Linked DNA regions of Homo sapiens: region 1 is linked to region 2. The links come from fine-mapping of genetic effects on gene expression. Tissue or cell type: lung. Region 2 holds a variant in brackets; the other region holds the start of a gene. All regions are shown on one strand. Distances are from middle to middle.

Evidence for each region. PIP is the estimated chance that this variant, and not a neighbour inherited with it, causes the effect.
Region 1: LINC00839 starts here. The variant in region 2 is the best candidate, but not a certain one, in a credible set for the expression of LINC00839 in lung (GTEx, PIP 0.69).

The regions. Positions count from the first base shown.
Region 1 is chr10:42,470,041-42,480,993 of GRCh38, reverse strand. It overlaps LINC00839 (long intergenic non-protein coding RNA 839), which reads right to left and starts at 5,503. Exons shown (of 5, transcript NR_026827.1): 1 at 5,114-5,503; 2 at 3,552-3,733. It also overlaps the pseudogene CCNYL2.
Region 2 is chr10:42,102,162-42,113,114 of GRCh38, reverse strand. No RefSeq gene overlaps it. Among named protein-coding and RNA genes, the nearest start is that of LINC00839, 370 kb to the left of the region's middle. RefSeq lists enhancers at 7,915-8,450, 8,451-8,986, 8,987-9,522, 9,523-10,058, 10,059-10,594 and 1 more. The variant G/A (reference allele first, on the strand shown) is at 6,736.

The sequences.
Region 1 (10,953 bases), 370 kb before region 2:
GGTTTCTCCATGTTGGTCAAGCTGGTCTCGAACTGACCTCAGGTGATCTGCCTGCCTCAGCCTCCCAAAGTGCTGAGATTACAGGCGTGAGCCACTGTGCCTGGCCTTCATAAGGATTTTTTAAAGCTATTCACAAACTTCGATCACAAATCTACCCACAGAAGTTGTTTTCTCTGGGAAACTACATTCCCATTTGTGCATAACACAGTGTGGACATGGTGGCTGCAGCTCTCCTAGGGCCTACTGTGGAAGCTTCTTCCTCAACAGAGCCTCAGGATTTATCAAAGTAAAAAAAAATAAAAAATTCATATGGTATCTGACTGCTGCCACTGCTGAAGGAATGTGTTATTTCTCAACCACTAATAAAACACAGAAACAGTTTCATTAAAGATGAGTTGTTGCTTTTCTTTTGAGTAAGAATATCATTATTCTAAGACTTCTATAGTTGTTGATCTGATCAAGTAAATATAGTGAAAGTTTTTTTGTTTCAGGTTATGAAGCAAAGCATTTTATTAGATGCACCACAAAGGGCATATTAATAGTAAATGGCAACACAATTTTAGATTATTAGCACTAAACTACATTTTAAAGATAATGTATAATACTTCTACACAAGGCCTGGCACGGTGGCTCAAGCCCGGAATTCTAGCACTTTGGGAGGCTGAGGTGGAAGGATTGCTTGAGCCCAGGAGGTGGAGGCTGTAATGAGCCGAGTTTGCACCACTGCACTCTAGCCTGGGCCACAAAGTGAGACCTTGTCTCAAACAAACAACAAAAACCAAAAACAAAAACTTGCCACGGTCCACGGGGAAAGTGGCCATGGCCATGTCAACAGGACACTTCAAACCCATGGTGTTTGTAGGTTTGAGGCAGCCACAACATCAGATGTGTTTTCTGGGCTCTGCTGCAGGAACGGAGGAGCTGTGCTGGGCCCCTCGCCCCACTCTGAAGTTTGGCCATGGGCTGGATGTGCTTTTGCTTAAGGAAGATGCCACAGGCTCCTTCCTCCTTCCCAGAGACAGACACAGGTCCCCAAAGCCTCCCGTACCTGGCTGAGGAAGCCAGGCAGACATGTTCCCTGTCCAGAAGGAAGGCCCCAGAGCTCCTCAGGATCTGGAAGCTGAGGAGGAATGCAGAATGGTGTCCCTGGTCAACCCCACTGACCTTGGGGTCATCTGATTTGCAGAGCTGATACCCTGGCTTGTGGGGGAAGAAACATTATGTGTATTTTGAGATTTGTGTTTGTTAACACGTATTATTATCAAGGCCAAGGAAGTCTACTGAGAAGGAAGGAGGAGGACACTGAATACCAGCCCAGGCTGCAGTGAGGCCTCCAGTAGCCTGCTGTATGACTTAATAAATGCTGAGTCAATGCAGAGTTGCGCTTGAAATCATCTCCCAAATCACTCCATTTAAATGGATCTTCCTGAGTCTGAGCTTTCTGCTTTTGGGAGGGTTGTTAATAATTTGCCCACATATATTCATAATGAATTTCTTCATAATGAATGAATTCATGTGGTGTGTTACTCCCCTTCATGCCAAATATTTTCTTATGCCACATACCAACTGCAGAGCTATCAGATTAATTTTGAAGACTTCAGTATGTTTCAAAGACAAGGTATCTGACCAATTCTTATGCAATTGTTTTTTTGTTTTTAGATCTCAAGTTATAGTGTTAAACGCATAACATTTTTTCACTAGATTCAAATTACACAAAGCTTTTGGCTCAGAAAATGCTTAATCAGCATTTGATTGCAGAAAGTTAATAAGCTAATATACAGAAAGTTAATAAGGTAACATACAGAAAGTTCAGTTGCTAACTTATCCCATTGCCAGGCCTTTAATTTGGATGGCCACAGTTGACACTCATGAAAGTCACCACTGATGTGGTGCTGGCTGTGTCCTTCCTGCCAATGTTTTGTGGGTATCATCCATGTGGAGACCTCGATTTTCGGTGGAGTGGCTCCTGGCTTTCTCCCCACTGGACATATCCAGCTCAGCTCCCTTCATCTCCTCTTCCAAGATAACAAGTGTGTTGTTTCACCTCTTTCTCCCTACAAAGCCAGACAGCTTACAAAGCAGGGGCTGTTCCATGTACATCTGACTTTCTCACCCAGGTCTGTGTGTGCACATCTGCATGTGCCTGTAAATATGTGTGCACATATGTGCATTCATGTGTATATGTGTGCCTGTATGTGTGTCTGCACATGTATGCCTGTGTACCAAGAACCCTGAGGTCAGTGGCTGAGTATGAGGAACTTGAAGCTCTTACAAGTACTTTGAATACGGAAAGACACATTTGTGCCACATAGGTGCATTAGTCCTTTGCAGTTGCCTAACAGTCCATTTTATTTTAATGCTAATGTTTGTGATTGTGCGGTGGATTCACAGAATGACAGAGTCGGTGCCTCCCCAGCATCATTGCTCTACATGCATGACCATTATCCAGTGTGTGCACATGTGGGCTGCTAGAGTATTTAGAGTAAACTGGGAGTTCATGGAAACCTGGCTGCTCCCAGAAGCACTCAGCACAGCCTAACATGACATAAAGTGTTACAATTAATAAATAAATTAAGCAAAGCTACTGCATACAAGATCATTATCAACCAGATTACTATATACAACTATGAACACAAAGAAATGAAACAACAAAAATCAAACTAGAGAACAAGAACCTATGACAAAAATAAGCCAATAAAGGGCTAACTTACAGATTTTAACAATAAGTCCTTCAATTTAACATAAGGAAAAAAATCCCTAAAGATAAATCAACAAAATAAGAAGAGTATATGAAGAAAAGTAAGGCACAGAGGCCAATAAATATTTTCTAAACTCTACCTCACATGAAACAGGTTACAGCAAGAGGATCTCTGCAGGGCAGGAGTCCAGAAACACTGAAAATCAATCACCTCAACTTCTTTTTTTTTTCTTGAGAAGAAGTTTTGTTCGGTTGCCCAGGCTGGAGTGCAATGGGGCGATCTCGGCTCACTGCAACCTCTACCTCCCAGGTTCAAGCGATTCTCATGCCTCAGCCTCCCGAGTAGCTGGGATTACAGGTGTCTGCCACCACGCCCTGCTAATTTTTGTATTTTTAGTATAGATGGGGGTTTCACTATGTTGGCCAGGCTGGTCTGGAACTCCTGACCACCCACCTTGGCATCCCAAAGTGTTGGGATTACAGGCGTAAGCCAACGTGCCCGGCACCTCAACTTTTTTCTCAAGAATCAAGAAAGAAAAATCAAGTGCAAAGAATACAGGATGAAGGCAATAATAAAGATAACAAACATCAATGAAATGGAAAAAAAAACATAACACAAATAAACCAAGGCTAAAAGTTGTTTTTATAAACAACATAGTTAATAAACCACTAGCAAAACTGATTAAGGAAAAAAGATTAAAGAACACAAGAGACCAGTATCAGAATCAAAACAACAGCCTACGTAACAGTATTATAACAAGATAATCAGAGAATTTTGTGAAATTCTCCCCGGGAGGCCGAGACTCCTGCTTGTCCTTCCTCCGCTGCCGGCACCCCAGACTCCCGGACTCACCCTCGGCTGGGTTGCCGTCTTCTCCTTTCAGAGATGGATGCCACAGGTTCCGGGCTTCTTGGGCTCTGGGAGGACGCGCAGCGGAAGGCGAGGTCGCTATATGAGGCCGCTCCAAAGTCGCCTCGCGCTGTTGCTGCGTCACTGCCTCCAGCCTCCAGCATCCAGGGAGAGTGCAGGCAAAACTGATTAAGGAAAAAAGATGAAAGAACACAAGTGACCAGTATCAGAATCAAAACAACAACTCTACATAACAGTATTATAACAAGATAATCAGAGAATTTTGTGAAATACATATGATCAAAAGTCTGACAACAGAGATCGCAACAGATGCTGAACCCAACTTACTAAAACTGGCACAAAAATAGCATAAAATAAGAACACTCCTATATATATTAAACAAAATTAACTAACTAATTTTAAAAATCCAACAAATCAACAATAATGCTCCACAAGGAAAACACCAGGATCAGACTTTGAAAATGTTCCAAATATTTAAGGAAGAAAAAAATATTGACACTGCTCACTCTCTCTCAAAGAGAAAGACGAAAGGGATGGTTTTTCAATTTGTTTCGAGAAGCCAGCATTACATTAATACACAATCTGATCAGACAATAAAAAACCCAGAAATAATAGATGTTCTGTTTCACAAACACAGATACAAATATTCTAAGAAAAATATTGTTACATGAACTAAACCAAGCAAGAAATTAAAACTGAAATTAAACAACAAAGACCAGAGTAGGAAACAACAACCTACAATAGAAATGAACCAATAAAGGACTAATCTCTAAAGTGTCTTTAAAAATGCTTCACATCAATGTAGGAAAAACACAAATGATCCAAGACAAAAAGAACACTATGAAGGAAAAAAAAGGGGGGTGCATGGGCGAATAAATATTTGCTAAGCCGTACTATGAAGAGGGTTATTTCCAGTTCCAGATGAGAGATACCCACAGGCAGCCCGGGGGGTGGGACCCCAGGGGACAGGACCCCCAGAAGGTGACAGAGATCCTGGCAGTGGGGGACCTGGGGCAGAAGGTGACCCCATCCTCTTCCCGGGCTGCCGCTCAAGGCTCCTGCCGCTCCCGGGCTCCAGCGCCCTCTCACCGGGTCCTGATCAGGGCTCCCTTTCTCACCCCGGGTCAGGCAGAAGGCCCCGGACCCCAGTCCCAAAAGAAACGGAGGCTGCAGGGCTTCCACGCAGGAGAGAAGGGGAGGGCTCCTCTCCGACCCGGGCTCCTTCAGCGCCCACCCCAGCGGACTCTGAGAGGGCGAGGAGGAGGTCGGGGGCTAGGTTCAAGCCGCACTGGGCCCCGGATTCAAGAAAGAAACGGGCTCCTGAGACGCCTGTGCATCAGAGGGGTCCTGGCTCGGCCTGGGATGGGGCTCGGGGAGAGTCAGACGATCTGCCAGGCTCCCAGCCTGAGGCCGCCCTCCCCGGCGCGCAACCCCCGCCCCCACCGCTGGGGCCCTCCTGCCTTTCCCGGCACGTCGCTCCCCGAGAGGCCGAGACTCCTGCCTGTCCTTCCTCTGCCGCCGGTATCCCAGACTCCCGGACTCACGCGCGGCTGGGTTGCCGTCTCCTCCTTTCAGGGCTGGACGCCACAGGTTCCAGGCTTCTTGGGTTCTGGGAGGAGGCGCAGCGGAAGGCGAGGTCGCTGCATGAGGCAGCTCCAAAGTCGCCTCGCCCTCGCGCTGTTGCTGCCTCACTGCCTCCAGCCTCCAGCATCCGGAGAGAGTGCAGGCAGGCGGCACCCAGTTCTCTTCCTTCTCCTCCTGCCCACGGCGGAGCAGCCTCCAGCATCCAGGGAGAGTGCAGGCACGTGGTGCCTGGCCCTCTTCTTTCTCCTCCTGCCCAGGGCGGAGCCATACAGACCACGCTGCCTGGAGCAGGGTGAAATGCGGAAAGCCCACGGAGCAACTATTTATAATGACTTATTTAACTAGATATCCTGTAAGGCATGTTCGGATTGGATGAGAGCCACTGTGCAAAACAACTCTGATTGGATAATATGACCCAATCAGGGCTGGCTGAAATGTTCCTTCTCGTCCTATCAGACTCAGGGTATAGATGCTGGGGTGGGGCAGGAGCCAGCGCCCCCACCGGAATTTGTGGCCACTTCGCCTTTGGCTTTGCCTCCTGCCATGCCCCGCAGGCCCGGAGAATGTGGCCCCAGACTGAAATGAGAAGAAGGTGGCCCCGCCGAGGGTGAGTCTGGGGAGGCTGGAGTGGGGGCTGTGAGGGGGTGCCCGGGCAGGAGTCTCGGCCTCCGCTGGGAGCAGCATATTCAGTGTGTAATGTGAATAACAGGCAAAATAGGTCTTAATTTTTTGTATTATTAGTGACAAAGACTTCCGGTCAACCGCAGGCCGTTAGGAGTTATGCTTTGGGGGAGTTGAGAGTTAAACTTGGATTTTTGACTGTGGGGGGTTAGCATCCATATCCCCCACATTGTTCAAGGGTCAGGTGTATTTTAGAGCACTGGCATGAATCACTTTGGGTCCCACTTGTTGAAAATAGGCATTGACATTTGGAGGCGCCTCCTTGTAGCGAGCAGGTACTACTGATCTCTCTCTTCCACGTACTGACCTTTCCCCAGCTTCTGTGGAACCCTGTTTCCTGGAGTTTACTTACATTCTTTAGTCAATTCTTCTCTAATTCTTCTGAAAGTGGATTTGGAGCAAGGGAAGAGAAACCTGCAGTCTTGGCTGTGTCCAGGTTTTGGTTCTGATTCTTGTGTGCGGTCCACATTCAGATTGGGGTCCTTAATGAAATCCATGGCTTCATCTCTCCTTGCATGCCAGCATCACCCAATCGTGTATAGTTAAACTCGAACTCCCTTTGCACCACAGACTCCCATCTCCAGGTGTTTAACAGGAATTGGATACTGAGCATGTGATATTTTTACCTAAACCTAAATACATCTTTTTTCCTTGTTTCCCTGTGTGCTTGTCCCCTGCCCAACCATCAGCACCACAAATCTAGACGCCTAAAATTCATCCACCTCCTTTGTAATGGCACCCAACCACCACATACAATCCTTTTAAATATCTCAGTTCTGTATTTGGAAAATTACACATTTTAACTGTCTTTTCACTTCATTGCCTTTCCATTACTCTAGGCCCTCATGGTTTCTTCACTGTTAGACTAATGAGCTATGAGTGTTTACCCTCCTAATCCTGCATACTCCTTAAAACCTCAGGCAGAAAATGGAAATTAAACTCGTGGGCATTCAAGGACACCCCCACGATTTTCAGGGTAAAGTTTTTATGGCTTAGCTTAATGCCCAACGACTTTCACATTCCTCTGTTGATAATTTCAATCTCTTGAAATTCTCTCAAACAAAAATAACTAACACTTGTTAACAACTTCGTGTTTCCAGGAAATACTTTAAGCAATTAAAGTCATAATTAAAGTAACATATGCAAAAACCCTATCAGTACTGCTTTTATACTTAAAGTTTTGTTTAAACGTAACCCTGTTTACTTGTTTATGTGTTGTCTATGGCTGCTCTCATGCTGCAGAGGTCGAGTAGAATATGGAATAGATGATGTGGACCACAGCTCCAAACATGTTTACTGTTTTGCCATTTTCAGGAAAAGTTGCTGGATGACTCCTAATCTAGTTGAATGTCTGTGTTACTAGTACAGGGAGATCCTTGCCAGCCAATGTCAGATAAACAAGTTGATTTTATGGACAATTTGTCTCATATATACAAGCACATTTCCAGTTTTTGTAACTGTTAACGATTTATTTTCCCACTTAGTTTGCTCCCTGTAACTTTGAGTGGCTCAACTATTCATCCTGTTTTGATTTCTTCATACCATTTACCCTCCTTCCAGATTATTTAATCAGGTGTTTTTATATTATACCTCAGCAGGGTTCTGAGCTTCTTGTTTGTTTACATGTCTCTATGACCCTCTTTGTTGTTTCATAAATGGATTGATGATATGTAAAATGTACATATTCATGGAAATAGCATTTGTTCCAAGTGACAAAACTATTTATAAAATGAGGATTGTAATTATGTGTGCTATTTGAATTCTGTACATGTATATTTCTGTCCTTGGATTGGAGGCAGAAAAGGGGTGGATTTTGGCTTCAGGCATGGTTTTCTCATCAGAATCCTAAGGTTAGTTCCTCTAGGCATGGGGCTGTAGGATGAATATCCCAAGGTGACAGTCATTGTTGATCCTTAGACCTTATTCTCAATGGGATTTTTAATAAGTGTACTAACATTTTAAGAGCTGTATTAGTTATAAGAAGAAATAGAATCAATTTTTATTTTAAAACGTTTCAATTTGAAATAATTATATACTTCAGAAAAATTGAAATAATATTAACAGTATTTCTGCATACCCTTCACCTATCCCTAATGTTAATGTTTAGCATAATCATAGAACAATTATTAAAGGTGAAAAACTCATACTGAGTCAGTACAGTCAACTAATGTTCAGAGCGCATCTGAATTCTCCCTCCAGTACCCATTTTCTGTCCTCATTGCATGTAGTTCTCATTTTTCGTCAGCCTCCTCCAGTTTGCATAATTTTCTCATTATTTCTTTTGTATTCATGGCCTTGATACTTTTTAAGAATTATATTTATTTTGTAAATATTTTGTAGACTGCACTTCCATTTGGGTTTGTGGAATGTTTCATCATGAAGTAACCTTCCATCTAATCATGAGGCAACATCAGACAAACCCAAATGAAGGTACAGTCTATGAAATAAATACGATTCATGTGGCAGGAATGTCACAGAAGTAATGTTACATACTTCTCAGGGCATTTTATCAGATGGTACGTGATGTTGCCATTACTGGTGATGTTAATCTTGGTACAGTGGGGGCTGCCAAATATTTTTCCCTTTTTAGCTGAAATGTATCATACGGGGAGACATTTAGAGATATACAAATATCCTGTTTGATATTGTATTCTCCCCCATTAGTCCTAGGACCCATGAGTAGATTTTTACCTATAGCAGTTATTACGGTGGAGGTTGCCTAATGATTTCTTTCCATCATTACTTCTGCATTTATTTGGAATGTTCTAGTAGGAAACAGCTGTTGCTTCTACACCACTTATTTATTCAATTATTTATATTATTATGGACTCATGGCTGTTTAGTGTATTCTTTGGATTATGATCCAATGCTAATATTATTTATTTTATTTTCAGGTTGTCTCAACTGTTGGAGTGATCAGACCCAACACCAGGCCATGGGGGCTACTAAGTCTGGCGGAGTCAAAGGAACGAGAAAAGACAAGTTAAAAGAGAAAGTGGGACCATGCAGCCAATGCTAGTGTGGAGGCTGCAAAGGCCCTGAGCTCTGGGATCCCACACTATTTATTGATGATCAAACAAAGAAACAGGCAGTGAAGATGTGGGGGTTGAAAGGAAGCGGTGTATCAAGTGAATGAGCTACAGCTGTGACGGTTTAGCATTTTCTTTGAAACATACGGCTACTTGAGATAAAGGGAGTGCTAGAAGCAAGGAGCCAGCAAGTCTAGACACATTCCAAAGACCACGAGGGGTTTTAATCCTAGACCCTGGACGTGTTCCAAGCCCTGCCTCAGCTTCTCTCCCAACACTCAGCTTTTCTCCCAACACTCAACATTGGCCATTGAGAGCCCCTTCAGGTTGGCACCTGTTTCCTTTTGATATGCCTTCATCATTTTTGAGTTCTTCCTTATTTTTGGCATCACAAAGTGTTCCAGGCTTATCATGCATCTTCTCTGACCTCAGCCCTGAAATTAACCCTATTTCTAGGGAGCCCTGGTTCATCATTAACTGGAGAATGGTACTAGAAACCATGATCTGAGCACTAGGTGTGCTCATTAGCACTGGAATGTCATTTACTCTAGGATCTCTCCATTGACAGAGCTAAGAACTCTATGTTGGTGTACTCACACATGCATTGACATTTGTCTATACCTATCTGACTGTGTACCTACCTACCTACTTATAAAAACTGTGAGTTCTTACTGTTGCCTTTGATTCCACTCTAACACCACTGAGTTTATTCTAGCTTTTCCTTCTTTGTAACTTCTAACAGTGAGAAAATTGGCTTTTATTTTCCAAAATATGTTAACTTGTTTGTTTGTTCCTGGTGTGTGTGTGTGTGTGTGTGTGTGTGTGTGTATGTGTGTGTATAGTAGATTGAGAATTGTGAAACCGTATGCTTGTTGAGAAATAAATTTACTAATTAGAAAATAGTATTTGTGGGACTTTTTTTTGTCTTTAGCTTTCAACAATGAAAATAGTTTTCCAAAGTTACTTAGGCTAGTTATGTTCTTCCCCACCTCTTTCTGCATGCTCATATTATTAGATTTCCTTTTATTAGATTCCCATTTCATTAGGTTCCTTTTTATCCTTTTTAGATATCTTATGCACAAATGTGCAGATAACATGTATAATTTTTAATATCCCCTTCTCATTATATGAAGTGTAGCTTATACCACGTGTGTGTGTGTGTGTATATATATATATATATATACACATTCTCGCTCTGTGTTTTGCATTTTTTCTTTCCACTTAACAATATAGCCTATATTTTAGAACATATTTAAACTTACTTTCATCTTAGCATGCTGTGATAGCAAACAGTTTCATTATTTTTCAGCCATAGAATTTTGTCTATAAAATATTCACTTCAGAAATGTAGAAATAAAGCATCAACATTAACAGAAACATTGTCTTTTTAAGGTTTTTCTTTTTTTTCTTTTCTTTTCTTTTCTTTTTTTTTTTTTTTTGAGATGGAGTCTCATGCTGTCGCCCAGACTGGAGTGCATTGGCGCGATCTCCACTCACTGCAACCTCTGCCTCCTGGGTTCAAGCAATTCTCCTGCCTCAGCTTCCCTGAGTAGCTGGGACTACAGGCGTGTGCCACCACACCTGGCTAATTTTTGTATTTTTAGTAGAGACAGAATTTCACCATGTTGGCCGGGCTGGTCTCGAACTTCTGACCTCAGGTCATCCACCCACCTTGCCCTCCCAAAGTGCTGGGATTACAGGCATGAGCCACCACGCCCAGCCAAGGTTTTGCTTCTTAAAACTTAACATTCTGGGGTCACTCGGGTATTTTCCCACTGTAGACTTATGTTAAAGTAGTATAAATTTTTGGTAGTAATTTAAATGTCTTTATTTATAAATGCACATTTGTGTTTCATTTCTAGCTGGTTGCAGTGTTTGATAAGCAAGATCTACATCATGGAGGTGATGACATCAGTGCCAGCTCCATGCATACCCAGAGCCCGGAGAGATTTACTAGTGCTAGTGAGCTTGGCACCAACAATGTCTCAGCCTTTCAGTCTGATCAAGCAGCAAGTGAAATTGAGGTCACATCTTCAGTACTTCATGCAAGTAAGTGAAAGCTCTTTCTTCTCTGCATACTTCATCTTTTT
Region 2 (10,953 bases):
GTGGCTTTTCGTCACCGCTGCTGTTGCTTTTTGCCCCCGCCGCTGCGGGTTTCTCCAGCCACGGCTTATTGCCCTCGCTGCCGAGGCTTCTTACCCCCACCGCCGTGGCATTTTGCCCCCATCACCATGGCTTTTTGTGGCTTTTTGCCGCTGCGGCTCTTTGCCTCCGAAGCCACGGCTTTTTGCCCTTGGCGCCATGGCTTTTTGGCCCTGCCGCCACGGCTTTTTGTGGCTTTTTGCCCCCACCACTACGGCTTTTTGCCACCGCGGCTCTTTGCCTCCGAAGCCATGGTTTTTGACCCTGCCGCCATGGGTTTTAGCCGCCGCGGCTTTTTGCCCCCGCCGCCATGACTTTTTGCTCCTGCCGCTGAGGCTTTTTGCCTCTGCAGTTTTTGCCCCCGCCGCCGCTGCTTTTTGCAGCTTTTTGCCCCCCCACCGCCGTGGCTTTTTGACCCCCTGCCACTGCGGCTTTTTGCCCATGCGGCTTTTTCCCCCCGTCGCCCCGGGTTTTTGTTTTTTGCACCCGCTCCCGCTGCTTTTTGCCCCACCACTAGGGCTTTTTGCCGCCGTGGTTTTTTGCCCCCGAAGCAACAGCTTTTTGCCCTCGCCGCCACGGCTTTTTCCCCGTGCCGCCACGGCTTATTGCCCCCACCGCCGCGGGTTTTTGCCGTCACGACTTTTTATCCCCACCGCCGCTGCTTTTTGCAGCCGCGGCTTTTTATTCCCACCGCCATGGCTTTTTGGTCCCACCACCGTGGCTTTTTGCCCTCCCGCAGCCGTGGCTTTTTGCTCCTACCTCTGAGGCTTTTTGCCGCTGCGGTTTTTAACCCTGCCGCTGCTGCTTTTTGCAGATTTTTTCCCCCTGTCGCCACGGCTTTTTGCCCCCGCGTCTTTTTCCCCCTGTCTCAGCGGATTTTTGTGGTTTTTCCGCCCCAGCCGCTGCCGCGGCTTTTTGCCCCCAAAGCCACAGCTTTTTGCCTTCGCCACCGCGGCTTTTTGCCCAGCCGCTACAGCTTTTTGCCCCCGAAGCCACACCTTTTTGCCCTCGCCACCGCGGCTTTTTGCGGCATTTTACTCCCCGCCGCTGTGGCTTTTTGCCCCCGCCACAGCTTCTTATCCCCATCGCCGTGGCTTTTTGCAGTCACAGTTTTATTCCACCACCGCGGCTTTTTGGGCCCACCACCACGGCTTTTTGCCCCCGCCACCATGGCTTTTGGCTCCTGCCACTGAGGCTATTTGCCGCCGCGGTTTTTGCCCCTGCCGCTGCTGCTTTTTGCGGCTTTTTGCCCCCGTGGATTTTTCCCCCCGTCTCCGCGGGTTTTTGTGATTTTTTTGCCCCCGCTCTTGCTGCTTTTTGTCCCCGCCACCGCAGCTTTTTGCCCCACCACTATGGTTTTTTGAGGCTGTGGCTTTTTGCCCCCAAAGCCACAGCTTTTTAGCCTCGCCACCATGGCTTTTTGTGGCTTTTCTCCCCCGCCGCCGCGGCTTTTCGCCCCCGCCACTGAGGCTTTTTGCCGCGGCGGTGTTTGTTCCCGCCGCCGCTGCTTTTTGCCCCCCCGCCGCTGCCGTGGCTTTTTGCCCCCGCCACTACAGCTTTTCGCTGCTGCAGCTTTTTGTCCCTGAAGCCACGGCTTTTTGTCCTCACCGCTGCGGCATTTTGCACCCGCCACCAGGGCTATTTGCCCCCGCTTCCGTGACTTTTTGCCACCGCTGTTTTTTCCCCCGCCACTACGGGATTTTACCCCCACCGCCGCGGGTTTTTGCCGCCGTGGCTTTTTTTAACCGCCACTGCCGCAGCTTTTTGCCCCCTCTGCCGCAGTCTTTTGCCTCCGCCGCCGGGGCTTTTCGCCCCTGTCGCTGCAGCTTTTTTGCACCCTGCCACCACGGCTTTTTCCCCCAGCCGCCGCGGCTTTTTGTGTTTTTTTTGCCCCCGCTCCCGCTGCTTTTTGCCCCCGCCTCAGTGGCTTTTTACCCCCCTCAGTGTGGCTTTTTGTCCCCACCGCCGCGTCTTTCTCCAACTGCCGCCGTGGCTTTTTGCCCCTGCTGCCGCGCTTTTTTGCCGCCGTGGCTTTTTGTCCCCGCTGCCTTTGGAACCTTAATTTCACTTGAAATCTAATTTCCCACTGCCATGCAACCTAACATATTTGTATGTTAGACTCCGGGAATTAGGACATGAACATTTTTGTGAGTCCATTATTTTGTCTACAGCAGACATAATCTATTTACCTGCAGATTAAAGTGTTCTTTATTTTTCTGCCTCTCTTTCTTAATTTTTTTTAAATAATATGAATTGTACTAAAGAGAAAGAAAAAAGGAAGGAAGGAAAGAAGAAAGTAAAGGAGGAAATGAGAGAAGGGAGGGAGGAAGGGAGAAAGGCAGGAAAGGAGAAAAAAGAAAGCAAGAACTCAAGAAAGAAAGAAAAAGTGATGGAAGGAGGAAGGAAAGGAGGAAGAGAGAATGGTAACAGGGAGGAAGGCAAACAAAGAAAATAGAAGGGAGGAAGGAAGGAAAAAGGAAAGGAAGGGAGGCAGGAAGGAAAAAAGGGAGGGAGGAAGGGAGAAAAAAGGAAAGAAAGTGAGAAAGAATAAGAGAAAAGAAGGGAGGGAGAAAGCAAGGGAGGGAGGAGGGAAGGAAGAATAAGGGGAAGGAAAGAAGGAAGGAAGGAGAAAAAAGAAAGGAAAAGAAAGCGGAAAAGAAAGGAAGGAAGAAGGCAAGGGAAGAGAAGAGAAAGGAAGATGGAAAGAAGGAAGGAAGAAAGCAAATATTAGAAATTCTGGGTTTGTTAGAGAATATGCCATACTGTTTTTTTTTTCACTTGAAAGGAAAAAGTATCTGCCATTGAAGATTGGATGTCTTGTTGGTGATATTGTTTTTCTTATCTTCCATATGATTACTGAGTTTGTGCCTAGTCTGTCCATTACTAAAACAAAAGTGTTGAAGTCTGCAAATATAATTTTGGATTTTTCTAGTTTACCTTTGATTTCTTTCCTGTTTTACCTCATGTATTTGGAGGTTCTGTTGTTAGCTGCATATCCTAATTAGTAGGATGTTTACATCTTGAGAATTGATTATTATATTATTTATTATCTCTCATCTCATACTATTTCTTGTTCTGAACTCTGTTGTGTCTAATATCAATGTAGTCCTTCCACAGCTTTATTTTAGTGTTTCCATGATATGGCTTTCTCCATATCTTGATGATAACCTATTTATACCTCTATATATTTGGAGCAAGATATAAAATTTAGAGTTGATTTTTTAAAGATTTTTCAAGATGGAATTCTTATTTCTTTTTGTTCTATTTGACATTCTCTGAGTTTCCTATATCTGAAGTTTGATTTCCTGTCACTTCTTTTAGAATATTTTTGGCAGTTATTTTGAAATATATTTCTTTTGCTCCATTATTTTTTCCTCTTTTCTTTTTGGGATTTCAATTATAACTAAGGTAGGTAATTTCATCTCAGTCTTATGCAGGTACTTTTTCTCAGGGTCTCAGGAATGTAGCCTTCTCACACTTCTGTTCTTTTCCTGGCTGTGTTGGTGAGCTCAGTGATATTCCTCCTTCACCTTCAAGAGCAGTTTTGTTTTGTTTTTCCTGTTTTCATACTCCCAGCGTCAGGAGTATTCTAAGTGTGGCAGTTTTTGTTGCCTTCCCCTACATATTAAGTGGAATATCTTGGTCTATTTGGACTCTTATAACAAAATAACATAAACCGGGTGACTAAAAAACAACAGATATTTCTTTTTTCACACTTCTTGAGGCTGTAAGATCTCAGGTCAAGATGCTCAGAAATTCAGTGTTGATGAGAGCCAATTTCATGGTTCATAGATGGTGCCTTCTTTCTATGTCCTCACATAGTGGAAGGCACACAAGAACTCCATTGAGCTTCTTTTATAAAGACACTAATCCCATTCATAAGGGCTCAGCCCCCAAGACCTCATCACCTCCCAAGTGTTCTGCTCTCCCTGGTCTGTATCATATACAGACTCTCTTGGATTCCTTACCAATTGCTTGACAGATCATAGTGGGTTTGTGGGGAAAAAGATTCAAGATGATGGATCTTTCCCAACTTCTGCAGCTGTCAGCGGTCTCCCAATCTGACCAGCCCCACTTTGTCTTTAGGAATTTATTGATTATTCCAGCTTTACTTGTCATAATGGTGTCTATTTGCATCTGTCCTATGTAAGTGCATCTGTCCTTTTTCTCCTTGCAGTTGCAAGTACTCAGGAGTACACTGTTGTTACTAATTACTCAGTATTGGTTGGTACATTGTCAAAGATCAAAAAACATTTTTAAAGATAAAAAAAAATTCTTGGAAGTTGTGCAATGAAGGGTTAATTCTGCAGACATGGCTTTCCAAAACCTTGCACATTCCAAAGGTCTTCAGGACTGGCCCTTGACAAGCTCCTAGGAGATGATAACCTATGAGCCCTTGGTATATGCTGCCTGATGAGAGTCTTTGTATACCTGAAAATGTAGGTCTTATCAAATAGCTGATGCTAACAACGTGATTTCTTGTGAGCACCTGTTTCTATATGCCTATGACTTTGTGTAATGCTATATTAATATGACCTCTCTTAGGGCATAGGGAGGTTGGGAACTAAGTAGCTAAGTTCAGTCACAGGACGCTCGATGCATATGTGGTGGAATCCTAATAAAAACCCTGGACTCAAGACTGACTGAGCTTCCCTAGTTGGCAACAAGTTCACACAAGTTGTCTCACACCATTGTAAAGAAAATTAGTCAGTGTGAAGTCCCCACTATGAAAGGACACCTGTACGCTCACATCTGGTTTGTCCTGGACTCAACTTTATGTGCTTTTATGCTTCTGATTATTTTAATCTGGTTTCTTTCACGTTAGAAACTGTAACCACAAAAAAAAATCAGCTTTCTTGAGTTACGTGAATCATTAAACCAAAGGGGGACTTGGGGACCCCCAATAAAAAGTACATATATTCTTAAAAAGAAAAAGAAAACTGGCTATAGCAGATATTGCTGATGACGTGTCTTCTATGTCCTGGACTCAATGTGTTCACCTGAAATTCACCTGTTTCAAGCTAACTGAGAGCTCCCCACATCATGCCTTTCTTTCTGATTTTTGGGCCTGCCTGCAAGCTTCTTGAGGCTAACCAGTGCTTCTCAACCACACATAGGAACAAAGAAGCAGTTAGGGGTGGAGAGTTAATGATTCTAAGGCAATCCTTAAGCAATAGGAGATGGGGATTCCAGCATCCCCATCTCTTTGTAAAGTTATTTTAAGACAATCTCCATACCTCCATCATTACTGAGCACATAGCAGTAACTACTCATTCACACTGGCTTCGTGTTCTGTTTCATTTTCTCCACTTCTGTGCTTTCTCACTCAATTTCTGATTAAAGTATCTGACCCCAGATATTTGTTTCATAGTCTATTTTTGAGGGAATCCAGAGCCAAGACAATAACAATGGGGCTTTGCAATGAGGGAGGGTGAGTATAATCATCAGAAGGTTACCTACCTCACTGGGAACATGAAGGCCTGGAGAGCTTGCTGTTTCAATGAGAGAAACATGTTGAATTTCAGTTGAATACCTATATATATATATGTGCAATAAGACGTGCCCTTTACTTATATCAAAGGAAAGTGCTCTTTACCTCTCTTTGTTGTTGTGTTTTTATCACTATTGCCTACACAAGCAGAATATCATACCCAGGATTTAAAGCTCTCTCTGCAGGATTTTCAAGCTCATGTTTTTATCATAAGTCACTCTGCTTCCATGTGTTTTAAATCTAATCCTCATTCCTCTGCTTTTACACCAGAGAATTCATCACTGACTTATTTTTGACTGACCTCCTTATAGAGCTGTCAGGTACACAATTTCTGCTGTGATCTTTATCTTAGAGTTCAGTCATATAGCCTCTCACTAGATATCATTTCCTCTTATCTTTCCTAATAATGAATTGTCAGTTAAAACTCAATATTTTTAAGATTGAGCTTGCCATCTGCACACACACACACACACACCATTATTGTTGTATTCTCATAGCCTTGAAACACTAATGTCACGTTGATGTCTGCCTTTTCTTTCTCTGCTAACTCATTCCTCATTCTTAGATTATTCTAAAAGATTCAATTAGATCAAGTTGGCTAATTATATTTTTAAGATCCTCTCTACCCTTACCAACTTTTCGTTTAACAAAATTTAAAAATTTCTGGCAGGAGACTGTTGAAATCCCCATGGATGACTGTGGTTTTACTATTTTACCTTTCAGTTTTAATAGGTTTTATATTATGTATTTTGAGGTAATGTTATTGTGTGCATACATAATTCTTATTTACATGACTTCTTGGTGTATTTTCCCCTTTGTCATTTTGAAATGTTATTCTTCATCCCCAGTGATATTTCCTGTTCTGATGTCTACTTTGCTCGTCAAAGTTTTAGGGGGTTTTGGTTTGTTTGTTTTTCTATTTTTTGGTTCAAGTAAGTTTCTTACAAATCTGTTCGATTCCATTTGATGATTCCATTTGCTTCAATTCAAGGATTCCACTCGATTCCATTCGATGATGATTCCATTCGAGTCCATTTGATGATTCCATTCGATTCCATTCAATGATGATTCCATTAGAGTCCATTTGATGATTCAATTCGATTCCATTCGATTCCATTTGATGATGATTCCATCAGAGTCCATTCGAGGATTCCATTCGATTCCATACAATGATGTTTCCATTCGAGTCCATTCGATGATTCCATCC[G/A]ATTCCATTCAATGATGACACAATTCGAGTCCCTTCATTGATTCCATTCAGTTCCATTGTATGATGACTGCGTTCGGTTCCATTCGATGATGATTCCAATGGATTCCATTCGATTTCTCAATTCAATTCAATTCCTTGCTGATTCCATTCAACTCCATTAGATGATGACTCCACTAGATTCAATTCGATGATGATTTTATTAGATTCCATTTGATGATGATCCAATTTGATTCTATTCAATGATGATTCTATTCGATTCCATTCAATAATTTCATTTGTTTCCATTCAAAGATTCCATTCGATTCCATTCAATGATGATTCCATTTGAGTCCATTCGATGATTCCATTCGATTCCATGTGATGATCATTCCATCGAGTCCATTCGATGATTCCATTTGATTCCGTTAGATGATGACTGCATTCGGTTCCATTCGATGATGATTCTAACGGACTCCATTCGATGACTCCATTCGATTCCATTCATTGATGATTCCATTCGACTCCATTTGATGATGATTCCATTCAATTCCATTCGATGATGATTCCATTCGATTCCATTCAATGATGATTCCATTGGATTGCATTAGATGACTCCATTGGATTACATTCGATGATGATTCTTTTCGGGTACATTCGATGATTCCATTCTAGTCCATTCGATGATGATTCCATTTGATTATTCCATTCAACTCCATTAGATGTTTTCTTTCGATTCCACTCAATGTTGATTCCATTTGAGTCCATTCGATGATTCCATTCGAGTGCATTCCATGATTTCATTTGATTCCATTTGATTATGATTCCATTCAATTCCATTCAATGATTCCATTTGATTTCATTCGATGATGATTGCATTAGATTCCATTCGATGATTCCATTGGAGTCCATTCAATGATTCCATTCGAGTCCATTAAAGGATTCCATTTGATTCCATTTGATGATGACTCCATGCGAGTCCATTCAATGATGATTCCATTTGATCCCACTCGATGATTCCGTTGGATTCCATTCTTTGTTTTATTTTGATTCGTTTTGATGATGATTCCATTCAGTTTCATTCAATGATCCCATTCGATTCTAATTGATGATGTTTCCATTCGATTCCATTTGAAGAAAATTCCATTTGATTCCATTGATGATGATTCCATTCGATTCTATTCGATGCCGATTGTATTCGATTCCATTCAATGATGATTCTATTCGATTCCATTTGATGATTAAATTCAATTCCATTCTAGGATGATTCCATTCGAGACCATTCGATGATTCCATTCAATTCCATACAATAATGATTCCATTCGAGTCCATTCAATGATTCCATTCAAGTCCACTTGATGATTCCATCTGATTCAATTCAATGAATCCATTCGATTCCATTCTATGATGATTCCATTCATTTCCATCTGATGATGATTCCATTCGACTCCATTCAATGATTCCATTCGATTCCATTTGATGATGATTTCAATCAATTTCATTCGATGATTCCATTCGAATCCATTCGATGATGAGTCCATCCAATTCAATTTCATGATAATTCCATTCGCTTCAATTCGATGGTGTTTCCATTCGAATCCATTCGATGTTGATTCCATTAGTTTCCATTGGATGATGATTCCATTCGAGTCCATTCGATGATGATCACATTGGATTTCATTCCATAATTCTATTCGATTCCATTTGATGATGATTCCATCTGATCCCATTTGATGATTCCATTCGATTCCATTCGATGACGATTCCATTCGTTTCCATCCGATGATGATTCCATTCAATTCCGTTCAATGATTATTCCATTCGAGTCCATTCGATGATTCCATTTGATTCCATTCGATGATGATTGCATTCGAATCCATGGATTATTCCATTCCATTCCATTAGATGATTCCATTCGAGTCCATTCGATGATTCTCTTCGATTCCATTCGATAATTCCGTTTGATTCCGTTAGATGTTGATTCCATTCGAGTCAATTCGATGATAATTCCATTCAATTCTATGCGATGATTCCATTCCATTCCATTTGAAGATGATTCCATTCGAGACCATTCGATGATTGCATTCAATTCATTCGATGACGATTCCATTCAATTCCGTTCAATGTTTCCATTAGATTCCATCTGATGATGATTCCATTCGATTCCATTTGATGATGATTCCATGCGATTCCATTAGATGATGACTCCTTTCATTTCCATTCGATGATGATTCCATTCGTTTCCATCTGATGATGATTCCATTCGATTCCGTTCAATGATTATTGCATTCGAGTCCATTGAATGATTCCATTCGATACCATTCGATGATGATTGCATTCGAGTCCATGGATTATTTGATTCCATTTTATTAGATGATTCCATTCGAGTCATTCAATGACTCTTCGAATCCATTCAATAATTCCGTTTGAATCCGTTTGATGTTGATTCCATTCGAGTCCATTCAATGATAATTCCATTCGATTCTATGCGATGACTCCATTCCTTTCCATTTGAAGATGATTCCATTCGAGACCATTCGATGATTGCATTCAATTCATTCGATGACGATTCGATTCAATTCCGTTCAATTATTCCATTAAATTCCATTCGATAATTCCAATCGAGCCCATTCGATGATTCTATTCGATTGCATTCGATAATTCCATTCGATTGCATTCGATAATTCCATTTGATTCCATTTGAGGATAATTCCATTTGAGTCCATTCGATGATTGTTCCATTCGATTCTATTCGGTGATTCCATTCGATTCCATTTCATAATGATACCATTCGAGACCATTCCATGATTCCATTCAATTCTATTCAATAATGATTCCATTCCAGTACATTCAATGATTCCATTCAAGTCCATTGGATGATTCCATCTGATTCCATTCAATGAATCCATTTGATTCCATTCTATGATGATACCATTCATTTCCATCTGATGATGATTCCATTCGATTCCATTCAATGATTCCATTTGATTCCATTTGATGATGATTTCAATCAATTTCATTCGATGATTTCATTGGAATCCATTCGATGATGAGTCCATCCATTTCAATTTCATGATAATTCCTTTCCTTTCAATTCGATGGTGTTTCCATTCGATTCCATTCGATGTTGATTCCATTAGTTTCCATTGGATGATGATTCCATTCGAGTCCATTCGATGATGATCACATTGGATTGCATTCCATAATTCTACTCGATTCCATTTGATGATGATTCCATCTGATTCCATTTGATGATTCCATTCGATTCCATTCAATGATGATTCCATTCGTATCCATCCGATGATGATTCCAATCGATTCCGTTCAAGGATTATTCCATTCGAGTCCATTCGATGATTCCATTCGATTCCATTGGATGATGATTGCATTCGTGTCCATGGATTATTCCATTCCAATCCATTAGATGATTCCATTCCATTAGATGATTCCATTCGAGTCCATTCGATGATTCTCTTCGATTCCATTCGATAATTCCGTTTGATTCCATTTGATGTTGATTCGATTCGAGTCCATTCGATGATAATTTCATTCGATTTTATGCGATTATTAAATTCCATTCCATTTGAATATGATTGCATTCGAGAACATTCGATGATTGCATTCAATTCATTCGATGACGATTCCATTCAATTCTGTTCAATGATTCCATTAGATTCCAATTGATGATGATTCCATTCGATTTCATTTGATGATGATTCCATGCGATTCCATTAGATGATGACTCCTTTCATTTCCATTCAATGAGGATTCCATTCGGTTCCATTTGATGATGATTCCTTTGAATTCCGTTTGATGACAATTCCATTCAATACCAATTGATGATGGTTATTTCTGATTCCATTGGATGATGATTACTTTTGATTACATTTGATCATGATTCCATTCGATTCCACTCAATGATTCCATTCGATTCCATTCAATGATGATTCCATTCGTATTCATTGTCTATTCCATTCCATTCCATTCGATGATTCCATTCGAGCCCATTCGATGATTCTATTCGATTGCATTCGATAATTCCATTCGATTGCATTCGATAATTCCATTTGATTCCATTTGAGGATAATTCCATTTGAGTCCATTCGATGATTGTTCCATTCGATTCTAGTCGGTGATTCCATTCGATTCCATTTGATAATGATTCCATTCGAGACCATTCAATGATTCCATTCAATTCTATTCAATAATGATTCCATTCGAGTCCATTCAATGATTCCATTCA